Regions from separate parts of the Homo sapiens genome. Here regions 2 and 3 are each reported to be linked to region 1. Evidence: microRNA targets listed by miRTarBase, many of them from high-throughput screens and not tested one by one. Region 1 holds a microRNA gene; each other region holds the end of a gene's coding sequence. Distances are from middle to middle.

The links. Region 1 holds the annotated microRNA hsa-miR-6765-3p (UCACCUGGCUGGCCCGCCCAG, at 2,262-2,282, opposite strand). A microRNA usually pairs through its seed, bases 2 to 8, with sites in the 3' UTR of a target mRNA and lowers its output. Matches are read on the target gene's strand: a 7mer-m8 pairs with bases 2 to 8, a 7mer-A1 pairs with bases 2 to 7 and ends in A, and an 8mer does both.
Region 2: miRTarBase lists C14orf180 as a target of hsa-miR-6765-3p. Seed matches in the 3' UTR shown: 7mer-m8 at 1,221-1,227 and 7mer-A1 at 1,206-1,212.
Region 3: miRTarBase lists SEC14L5 as a target of hsa-miR-6765-3p. Seed matches in the 3' UTR shown: 7mer-m8 at 1,603-1,609.

The regions. Positions count from the first base shown.
Region 1 is chr14:105,148,517-105,151,760 of GRCh38, forward strand. MIR6765 (microRNA 6765) reads right to left here and starts at 2,348; the gene lies at 2,262-2,348. It overlaps JAG2 (jagged canonical Notch ligand 2), which reads right to left. Exons shown (of 26, transcript NM_002226.5): 8 at 3,110-3,223; 9 at 2,767-2,880; 10 at 2,475-2,588; 11 at 2,349-2,395; 12 at 2,088-2,261; 13 at 654-804; 14 at 421-573; 15 at 229-342.
Region 2 is chr14:104,588,051-104,591,294 of GRCh38, reverse strand. C14orf180 (chromosome 14 open reading frame 180) reads right to left here. Exons shown (of 5, transcript NM_001008404.3): 4 at 2,986-3,021; 5 at 780-2,717. The coding sequence ends at 2,512. It overlaps TMEM179 (transmembrane protein 179), which reads left to right. Exons shown (of 4, transcript NM_001286389.2): 4 at 1-431. Among named protein-coding and RNA genes, the nearest start is that of C14orf180, 9.9 kb to the right of the region's middle. RefSeq lists an enhancer at 2,962-3,244.
Region 3 is chr16:5,014,425-5,017,668 of GRCh38, forward strand. It overlaps SEC14L5 (SEC14 like lipid binding 5), which reads left to right. Exons shown (of 16, transcript NM_014692.2): 16 at 435-3,244. The coding sequence ends at 546. Among named protein-coding and RNA genes, the nearest start is that of NAGPA-AS1, 18 kb to the right of the region's middle.

The DNA.
Region 1 (3,244 bases):
AGCTGGGCCAGGTGAGGACAGAGAGGGGCGGGGGAGGAGCGTCGGGCCGGGGGAGCTGGCCTCGGGCATGGGGGCAGCCTGGGACTCCACCCCATGGTGGCAGCACCCCCTGGCCAGGCCTTTCTGGGTACGGGGCCTGCCGCACCCAGACAGCGGTCCATCTCAGGGTGATAAGGGGCCCACAGGGGTGGAGGCACAGGCCGTGTGGGCGGGTGCTGGAACACTCACTGGTGTCGCAGAGCTCGCCCTCCCAGCCGCTGGGGCAGAAGCAGCGGAAGGCGTCCACCTCATCGATGCATGTGCCCCCATTGCGGCAGGGCTGGCCCAGGCAGTCGTCAATGTCTGCAGAGGCGAGCGGGGTGAGCCAGGGCCTCAGGCCAGCCCAGCCCCACCACCAGCCCGCCGTTCGTGGCCACTCACTCTCATGGCAGTAGGTGCCAGTAAAGCCACTGTCACAGATGCAGGAAAAGTTGCCCCCTGGCTGGCTGACGCAGCGTCCATGGGGGCCACACACGCCGGAGGCTGCTGTGCCAGGCATCCCAGGCCCCGCGTCTGACCCGCAGCCATCGATCACTATGGCAGGCAGTACAGTCAGGAGTCAGGCCCGCCCCTGCCCCACCACCTCCCCCACCACCCCATGCCGCACCCAGCACCTCTGCAGGCCCCGCCAGGGCACGGCTCGCGGGGCACGGAGCAGTTCTTGCCACCAAAGTCATCAGGGCAGGCGCAGTAATAGTCACCCTCCAGGTTATAGCAGCGAGCGCCGTTCCGGCAGGGGCTTGGCTCACAAAGGTCGACATCCACCTGCAGGGTGGGGGGTGCCTGTGAGAGCCTAGGCCCAGGCCCAGGCCGGGAACACAGGCCAGGCCTCTGTCCATACGAAGGTAGATCCCTGGGGACCCCCAGGCCCCTCCGCCCTGGGCCTAACAGTGCCAGCCAGAGCCCAAGACCCCTGCCCACCTGAGACTGCCCAGGCCTTAGCTGAACGCAGATACCTGTGGGCCCCCACCCCCACCTCCACTGCAGCCCAGCTTCCTCACTGTCCCTCGGGAGGAGTGTGGCCTTGGCCCCTGCTGCTGGCAGGAAGGACAGCTCCTGAGCCCCTCACACACTGCCTGGCCACCCTCAGAGCCAAGACTGTGGGTCTTTTCCAGGGCCAGCCACTGCCATGCTTGCAGGTCCTGAGGTCAGACCCCTGCCCTGGGCCCCAAGAAGCCCTCTGGACAGGAGGCCCATCCTCTGCACCAAGGCCAGGGCAGGATCGTGGGCGGCCGAGGGTGGTAGGGAGGTGGGTGGGGGGAGGCAGGGAAAAAGGGGAAGTAAGGGGAGGGGGTGGTAGGGAGGCAGGTAATGGGGAGGCAGGGTTGGGGGAGGTGGGGAAGGGGGTGGTAGGGAGGTGGGTGGGGGGAGGCAGGGTTGGGGGAGGTGGGGAAGGGGGTGGTAGGGAGGTGGGTGGGGGGAGGCAGGGTTGGGGGAGGTAGGGGAGGGGTGATAGTGAGGTGGGTGGGGGGAGGCAGGGTTGGGGGAGGTGGGGAAGGGGGAGGTGGGGAAGGGGGTGGTAGGGGTGGTGGGGAAGGGGGAAGGCAGGTTACTTTGGAGGCAGGGGGGAAGGGGAGGTTGGGGGAGGGGGTCCAGTACCAACAGATGGTCAGAGGGAGGCGAGAGCATCAGCCCTGAGAGAGATGCCCACTCCGACCCAGGACTCACCTATGACAGGTGTATACCTCTCCACCATCAGGCACCCACCCTACCCCATGTGCTCTGCCCACCAGAGCCCCCTGCCCTCCAGTCCCGAGGGAGTGCACAGATGGACAGATAGGCCTGGGCAGCCAGCAGCCCGGGGGCTCCTAGCCCAGGCCACCAGGAAACCCATCACAACAAGCAATGGCCACAGGGGGCCAAGCCTGGTGACCTGTGACAGCCCCGCCTGCCCACCTGGCACCCAGTGGAGAGCTGAGCCTGGGACGCCTTGGGGACAACTTCCCCTGCAGCACCCCTGGGTCACTCAGGCCCCATGGTCAGGGGACGAGGCCTGCCCTACAGCTCCCAGAGCAGCAGGTGGGGCAGGGTGACCAGGCAGACCTCACCTCACAGAGAGGCCCGGAGAAGCCCTGGGGGCAGTGGCAGTGGAAGCCGTCGGCCAGGTCCTCGCAGAGGCCGCCGCTGTGGCAGGGGCTGCTGGCACACTCGTCTCGTTCCAGCTCGCAATGCCGGCCTCCGAAGCCCCGTGGGCACACACACTGGTACCCGTTCACCAGGTCCTGGGCGGGCCAGCCAGGTGAGCGTCCCGCAGGCACCCTGACGGCCCCGCAGCACCCACGCCACACACCCTCCTGGCCCCGCCTCACCTTGCAGGTGCCCCCATGCTGACACTGCCCGCGACAGTCGTTGACGTCTGGGGGCAGAGGAGCAGGGTCAGAGGCGGGGTCCCATGTGCCTCGGCCCACCCGCCGGCGCCCACCCCCCATACTGACTGATATGGCAGTTGATGCCCTTCCAGCCCGGGATGCAATCACAGTAATAGCCGCCAATCAGGTTTTTGCAAGAAAAAGCGTTAAGGCATGGCTTCCCTTCACACTCATTGGCGTCTGTGAAAGAGACAAGGTGGGAGCCGTGGGGCTCGGGCCCTGCCTGCCCCCTGCAGCACGGGCACCTGGCACCCGCAGCCCAGCAGCCCCAGCAGCCCCAGCAGCCCCCGCAGCCCCAGCAGCCCCCGCAGCCCGCATGCGCGGCCCACGTTCCCATGCACTCGCTCGGAGCCCTTACCCAGCTGGCAGGTGGCCCCCACCCACTGCTCGGGGCAGATGCACTCAAAGCCGTCCACCTGGTCCACACAGGTGCCACCGGCCGCACACGGGTTCGAAGCACACTCATCGATGTCTGCAGAGGGTGGAGAAAGGTGGGGCCCTGGCAGTGTGAGCCGTGGGAATAAGGTCCCCATGGGCAGGTGGCGCTGCAAGCCTGGGTCTTCCTGCCATTTGTCCTCGCCAAGCCAGCCGCAGCCACACGTGTGGACTTGACCACTGCACCCCATCCCCAGCGAGTTGCCCCACTCCCAGACCCCCACTGATACTAGGCAGGAGTCCCCTACTCACGTGCAGACACTCACCAAGGGCACAGGTGGGCCCGCTCCAGCCCGATGGGCAGTGGCATTCGAAGCCGGACGGCACCTCATGGCAAGAGCCCCCGTTGGCACACGGGTTGGAGGTGCAGGCGTGCTCAGCTGTAGAACCGCGGGGAGGGG
Region 2 (3,244 bases), 560 kb from region 1:
TGGCTTCTGGAACCTGAGGCTTGGCCCCGGTTGGGTCTGTTCTTGGGGGCTGCACTGCTGGATCCCAGGAGCAGGTGTGGAACAGCCCCATGGCCAGGGTGATGGAAATCCTCGGCTGCATGCAGACATAGACCCACCCTGGACTGGGCTGTCTCCGGAGCCCAGACACATCGCCCTGGGAAGGGGCAGCTGGGCCTGCAGTGTGCTGGGCAGGGGCTGGCGGCCCTGGTCGTGGGCTCTCCAGGGTCCCTCAGGGGATTGGGCCTCTCCCCAGGCAGGAAGGTGGGAAGTGCAGGCATGACCCGGGGTTCCTGAGGCTGGTCCACCAAGTTGCTTCTGAGACGCCTTCGCTTCTGTCCTGGCTGGCTGTTAATGATATCCCTGTTCTAATTCCACTCTGGCTAAACTGAAAGTAAAGATCCTTAAGCTTACATGTGTCTATTCCTCAAAATCAAAATAAAAACAAAAGCACCCGAGTCTCCAACAGGGATGAGGAGGAGCGTGTGGGGCTTCTGTCTGCCCTCTCCGCTGTTGGCTGGCCTGGCTCGTGGTTCTAACTGTCTGTAATTTGTGGGTCACACACAGTTTGCTCAGGCTTTGAGCCTTTCGTGTCCGAAGCTTTTAGGAATTAGAAGTTGGCCTTCCCGAGGTTCTGCCTTCCTCTCTGTACATTTTCTAGTGGCTTCGAGTCTCACTGCTTCCCATGCAGCTTCCCCAGGTGGGAGGATCCATTTCGAAGGATCTCTTGGGGGTGTGGTGCCCATCTTTGAGCAATGTTTATTCGAAAACACCTGAGGTCGTAGCGTGGGACCCCGCAAAGCCAGGCACGTCCTTGCGTTGCCTTTGCAGTGGACAGACAGCAGCGGCTGGGGGAGATCGGCCTGTGCGGTGTCCCCCGTCAGAACCGGGGCTGGAGGGGTGTCCCAAGCACACAGGGCTGAGCCTGGGCCTGTGACTGCTCTGAGAGACCCAACCTCTGGGAGCCGCTGCTTCTGCATCCAGAATATGGGGCAGGAACCTGCCCATCCTCCTTCCTGGGGTGGGGTGGGATGGGCTGGGCCTGGGGAGAGATGCTGGAGGGTCCCCGGGGGAGCCCCCACCATGGTCCCTTCTGGGCCACTTCTGGAAACAGCCCCTTTTGTTACCTCCACCCGCAACTCTGGGCTCCCTGGATTCCAAAGCTGGAAGTGACCCTGGAGACCACTTCACCTGTTCCCTGGCACCTGGAGTTGCAGGGACACACCCTGACTGCAGGGCAAAGGGAGCCGGCCGGGCATCCCTCAAGACCCAGGGGCTTGGTCAGCCCCTGCCCGAGTGGACACATCCACTCCCAGGCCTGCAGGAGATGGGGAGGTTCCAGGCGCCCAGGACATCCGCTTTGGCCACTGAGGCCGATTCCTTAGCAAATCGGTTCTGGTTTCTCTCATTTCTATAAAAACACCAAGACTGAAGGAAGCCACGGTGTGTTTTAATAAAACAGTGTCTCCCAGTTAAGTGGTGGGACAAACAGGAACCACCGGGTGGATGGTCGGCCGTGCCCACCCGCCTCAGGCTAACCTCGAGGACGCTGGTCTGATTGTCCCTGTGTCTCTCCTGGGCAGTTCTGCCTGGTGTCTAACCGTGGGCCTCCCTGCTTTGTTCAGCCCTCCCCCCACGTAGGGTCTGGAGAGGCCCCTGGTGTTTGTCATCCACAGGGCTCCCTTCAGCTCTGCAATCCGGCGACAAAGCCACAACCACAGACGGTCTCCGGGACCCACAGGCCCCAGCTGGTGGGTGGTGCTGGCTGGCCCCGGGCTCAGCTGGGTGTGCCTGGCCTGCAGAGCTGGGCACAGATGGCTGTTCTGAAGGTCGGGGGTGTCTGGGCCCCTTGCTGTCCCCTCGGCTTCTACACCTGAAGCCGCCCCTGATGAGGGGTCCTTCCCTGGGGCCTCTCCAGACTCACGGGGCTGGGTAGGGGGGTCAGACCTGGGCTCAGAGGATGGCACCTCACATCAAAGGGACCCACCTTGACAACCAGACCCTTCCCTCCCCGTGGGGTTTCGAGGTCTGGATTCCCCACAAGCCATAATCGCAAAAGGCTGGGTTTGCCTCCTCCGAGCAGCCCCTTGAACACGGGCAGTGTGTCCCCCTCCTCAAGAGGGTGCACACGGTGATGGCCGGGCCAGGCCCTAGCAGCAGCAGGAGTTCCTGCTGGGACGAGGGAGGGGTCTTTGGGTGAGCCTGGGGAGCCTCAACTGTTAGCAGTCGAATCCTCTTTCTAATAAAATCTCACATGGACCCAACACAGGAGACAGGAGGGCTGTGCTGACTAGTGTGGCGGGGCCGCCTGCTGTGCCCCCCATGTCCGATCTCACGCCACGGGGTCCCCCTTTTCCTAGTTAGCCCTCAGGCAGCAGCCCCTTTTGGCCCCCATGATTCACCAAGCAGCAGGGCCAGGGCTCAGGCTGTCTCGGAGCCCCCGGAGTGCTTGAGCTCTCCTGGAAGCCCTGCCCGTCCTGCCCGTCCTGCCCGTCAGAGCCGCAGGAGGCCGCGCCAGCAGGTGAGGGCCACGTGCCGCAGGTGCAGGACAAGGCCGAGGAGCCGGGCCCGCAGGTCCTCCAGTGCCGTTGCCACGGGCTTGGCCCGGCCGCAGTATAGGCCCAGGGCCAGCACGAGCAGGACGCACACACACAGCTGCAGGAGCAGGGAGCCGCCGTGTGGCCTGGGCCGGCCGGGCACTGCGGCCAGAGGGCAGGCAGGGTCAGCGCCAGCCAGCGCGACCCTTCCCTGGAGGACTGGGGCTGGTGGGGAAGGGATGGGGAGATTCCACCCTGTCCATGCCCATGGCCCCTCCCTAGCCTCTTGGGGTCTCCTTGCAACAAGAGCTCCCCAACTGGGGACTCCTTAGAGGCCCTGGCCCTGTGACACCTCCCTCGGGGAGGGAGTGAGGGTGGGTGCACCCACGGAGGGGGCAGTGGGGCACAGGGATGTGGGCTCAGAACTCACCCCTGACAGTGGCTGTGGCGTTCTTGTCAGCAATGTCTGCGAAAGAGAATGGAGAGTCAGCTGGGGGCACCTGCCTCAGTCCATCGGGCGCCCCCGCCCTCTCGTCTCACCCTGCACCCCCGAAGGACCCTGAGACTATTCATCAGTGAGAGACCCAGGCCCAGCCGGTCCTGACACTTCCTCAAAGGGACAGTCATGATTTGAGAATCCGCCCTCATGTTCTCCTCCAGTTGCTGTTTCATGGACCGGGACTGTGTGT
Region 3 (3,244 bases), not on the chromosome of region 1:
GGTTTGGAGTAGGAGTTAACCAGACAGCTGGGGGAGGAGAGAATGGGCTTCTGCCTCAGGCTCAGCGCACACGAAGGCCACTGCAAGAGCTAGGAGGAGGACCATGGAATTTGAGTGCAAAGAGTAAGGAGGGAGTGAGACTGGAGACAGGGCCGGGGACTCCCTGGGCTGTGGCGGCCTTAGGGCCATGCAAGGGCCTCAGGCCAGGGGAGCCCCTGATGGGTCTGTGGCAGGCTGGGCTCCATCTGGGGAGATGGGAGTGTGGGGAATTCGGTAGTGCTTTTCTCTTCATGGCGTCACTTGCTTTTCCCTTTGCATCGGCCTGGGGCCCTGGGGCCTGATTTGCAGCATCAACAGCTTTTCCACTGCTGTGTGTCAGCCCAAGGGCCTTGTCACTGTGAGAGGGTAACGTGTGCCACGCCCTTCCTCCCCAGGGGCTCCATGTCCAGCCTGGAATCCTGCACCAGCGGCTTCTCCCAGCTCAGCGCCGCCACCTCGTCCTCCTCCTCCGGCCAGTCTCATAGCAGCTCCCTGGTCTCCAGATAGCCGGGCCCAGTGTTTCAGGGCCGCCCGCTCGCCTCCAGTGTCCAGAAATGTCCAGAATGAGAAGCCAGCTAACTGCAGGGCCTGGGACCATGTGGGCTGGAGCCCCAGGCCTAGATGCTGCCCAAGTTGGGGTGTCTGGAGCGGATGGCAAGGATCCAGAACTGGCCTGTGGGTGGTGTCAGGGCTCTTGAAATTGCAAGGACAGAACCATCTCCTTCCGGCTTCGTGTAAGGAAGACCAAGCCAAGGCCAAGGTGTCTACCATACCACACCTTTGGGACATCCGGGCTTAGCGACGTCAGCCAGGCCCATCTCCTCTCTGTCCACCTCTTGCTCTGCTTTCGCCATGCAGGGGACCATCACTATCAGGTGCCCTTCTCCTCCCTGCAGCTTGCCTGCATAAGAGAGCCTCTTCCTCCCAAAGGCTCCAGCCCACTTCCCAGAGCTGAGTCTTAGCCTGGAAGGGGGAGCGATTGCCAGGTCAATTCCTGAACCAATCACAGTTGCCAGGCACACTGGAGAATGCTGATTGGCCAGCAGGGTCATGCCCAATCTGGACCAATCACCGTGATCCAGGGTTGCAGTGAGGTGCAGTGATTGGCCAGCCTGGATCACATGCACATCTCTGGAACCAACCACCTGCTCTCAAAAGCACTAGTGGGTGCCTCGAGGAGTACTGGGGTCCCCCCTAAGAAGAAGGAGGAAGGATGCTGGGGAGGCAGAAATGAAGGGTGTTTACCTTGGCATCTGATTGCATAACGTTCTGTTATGCAGTATCAAGATGTGCTTGGTGAGCAGTTAAGTGAGTTACAGGCGCTGCTCTTTGTGGGGAACAGCACATCCTGAAGTGAAAATCCATGTTCCCTGCACTTGGCCAGCATGGCCTAAGCCTGACCATCCCTGATTGGAGAGGGTGGGAGAGCCCTGGGTTTCTGCTAAGTTCCAGGCAGTGATGGGGTGACTGAGGCTGTCTGTATACCCCACTGGAGATGCCTTTCTCTCCTAGGGAACTGTTTAATTATGACTGTTTTTGGTTGTAAGCCACAGAGACCCATGCCCAGGTGCTTCAACACAAAAGCATGATCATTCATGGGTGCATAGAACTGGCCAGTCCAGGAGGGCTTGCTTCAGGTAAGGCTAGATCCAGGGTCTCAACATGGAGTCTCGATTCCCCCCGCGAGTGGAGGCTGCTGTGTTTGCCCTGGGGCAGATATGACTCTGGAACTAGGTTCAATATTGACATGAGTTCCCCTAGTTACTACACAGGAGCGTCTTGGGTCTCCTTGGGGCCTGAGGACATTTCTCCTTTCCTTTCCTGGACTCCCCAAAAGGCAGCCAGTCAGGGGTCACCAACTTGAAGCCTGATCTGGCCTGCTTTTAGTGTTGCTTTTTTGCCTTTAGAATGGTTTAAAAATTGAGGCATTTCGCATCGAAATCAGGATTTCTGGCTTCCCTTAGGCATTTGGGAGCACCAGCAGAATGGGGTCACTATTGTTGCATGAAGACAACACCTCTGCACCCCTGGATGTGGCCACGCCAGTCCCTACCCCATTGACTTGCGCCCAGCCCACATTACACATCCTCATGACCTGCGTGGCAGGAGTCTCACTGACATGGCTCTGTCAGCAGTGGCTGGTACCCTTGTCTCCTGGCCTTGCTTAGAGTTGGGGCTCATCTCTGCTGCAGTAACTGAGCCAAGGGGTGGTTTTGTGGCCACAAGAATCATCTTTATGCAGGCTCAGCAATGCAGGGCCAGGAAACTTATATCTACGCCAGCCTCAACCCCAAACCCAAGGAAGAGAGAAAGTGTCATCTTTTCAGATACATCCTTCTTCCTGCTGGGAGAGAGCCTTGCCCACCTTCCTGTTGGCTCTCTGTCCGCTTCTCAGGTATCTGAACAAAATAGATTGCTTTGCACTCTGCGTCAAGGTGTGTGTGCACATGTGTGCATAAGAGACCGACTGATTGGAAGGAGACGTTCTCAAAACTAATTGCTCCCATATCACCAGGCATTTATTGCTGAGAGCAACTTGCAATATTTTCAACTATCTTTAAGTGAATTTCTAGCTTTTCTCTTAAAAACTAGGTGTTATCCTACAAGTATGCTGGGATAAGCTGCCCTGGCAGTCTTTATACATTTATTGTCTAGCCCCAGAGAAGGACACAGAAGCCTTTTACGGAAGGAAGCTGGAACTGCCTGTTCCAGAGGCGGGTGGGGGGAGGGGAGTCTGCTATCAGCTGTCCACCCTTAACAGTGGGGGTGAGGAACCTCAGGCCCTTTCAGTTCTGCTCTTGAGAGTGCTCTCTCCCTAGGGAAAACCAGCCCAAACTGGCTTAAGCAACAAAGCAAATTCCCTGGGTCCTGTACTAGGGATGGCTGAAGGTGGGTGCTGCTTCAGATATGGCTGGATCCAGGAGCTTAATGTCCTCAGGCCTCTCAACTGCACCCAGGCCTCTTGACTCTGCATCTCTTTGCATGCTGACCTCATTCTTTCTTCCACCTGGCGGGAAAGATGGCTGCCAGCAGCCCCAAGCCTATAATTTCAGGATTCACACTCTAAGAGATGCTTTTCCATCTCAAATCTCATGGAAGGCTCTGATTGGCCCAGCTCGAGTCACATGCTTATTCCTGTGGGCCACACTGGCAAGGAACTAGGGTCCCGTGATTGACATTCCCTGCAGAAGCCGCAGCAGGATTG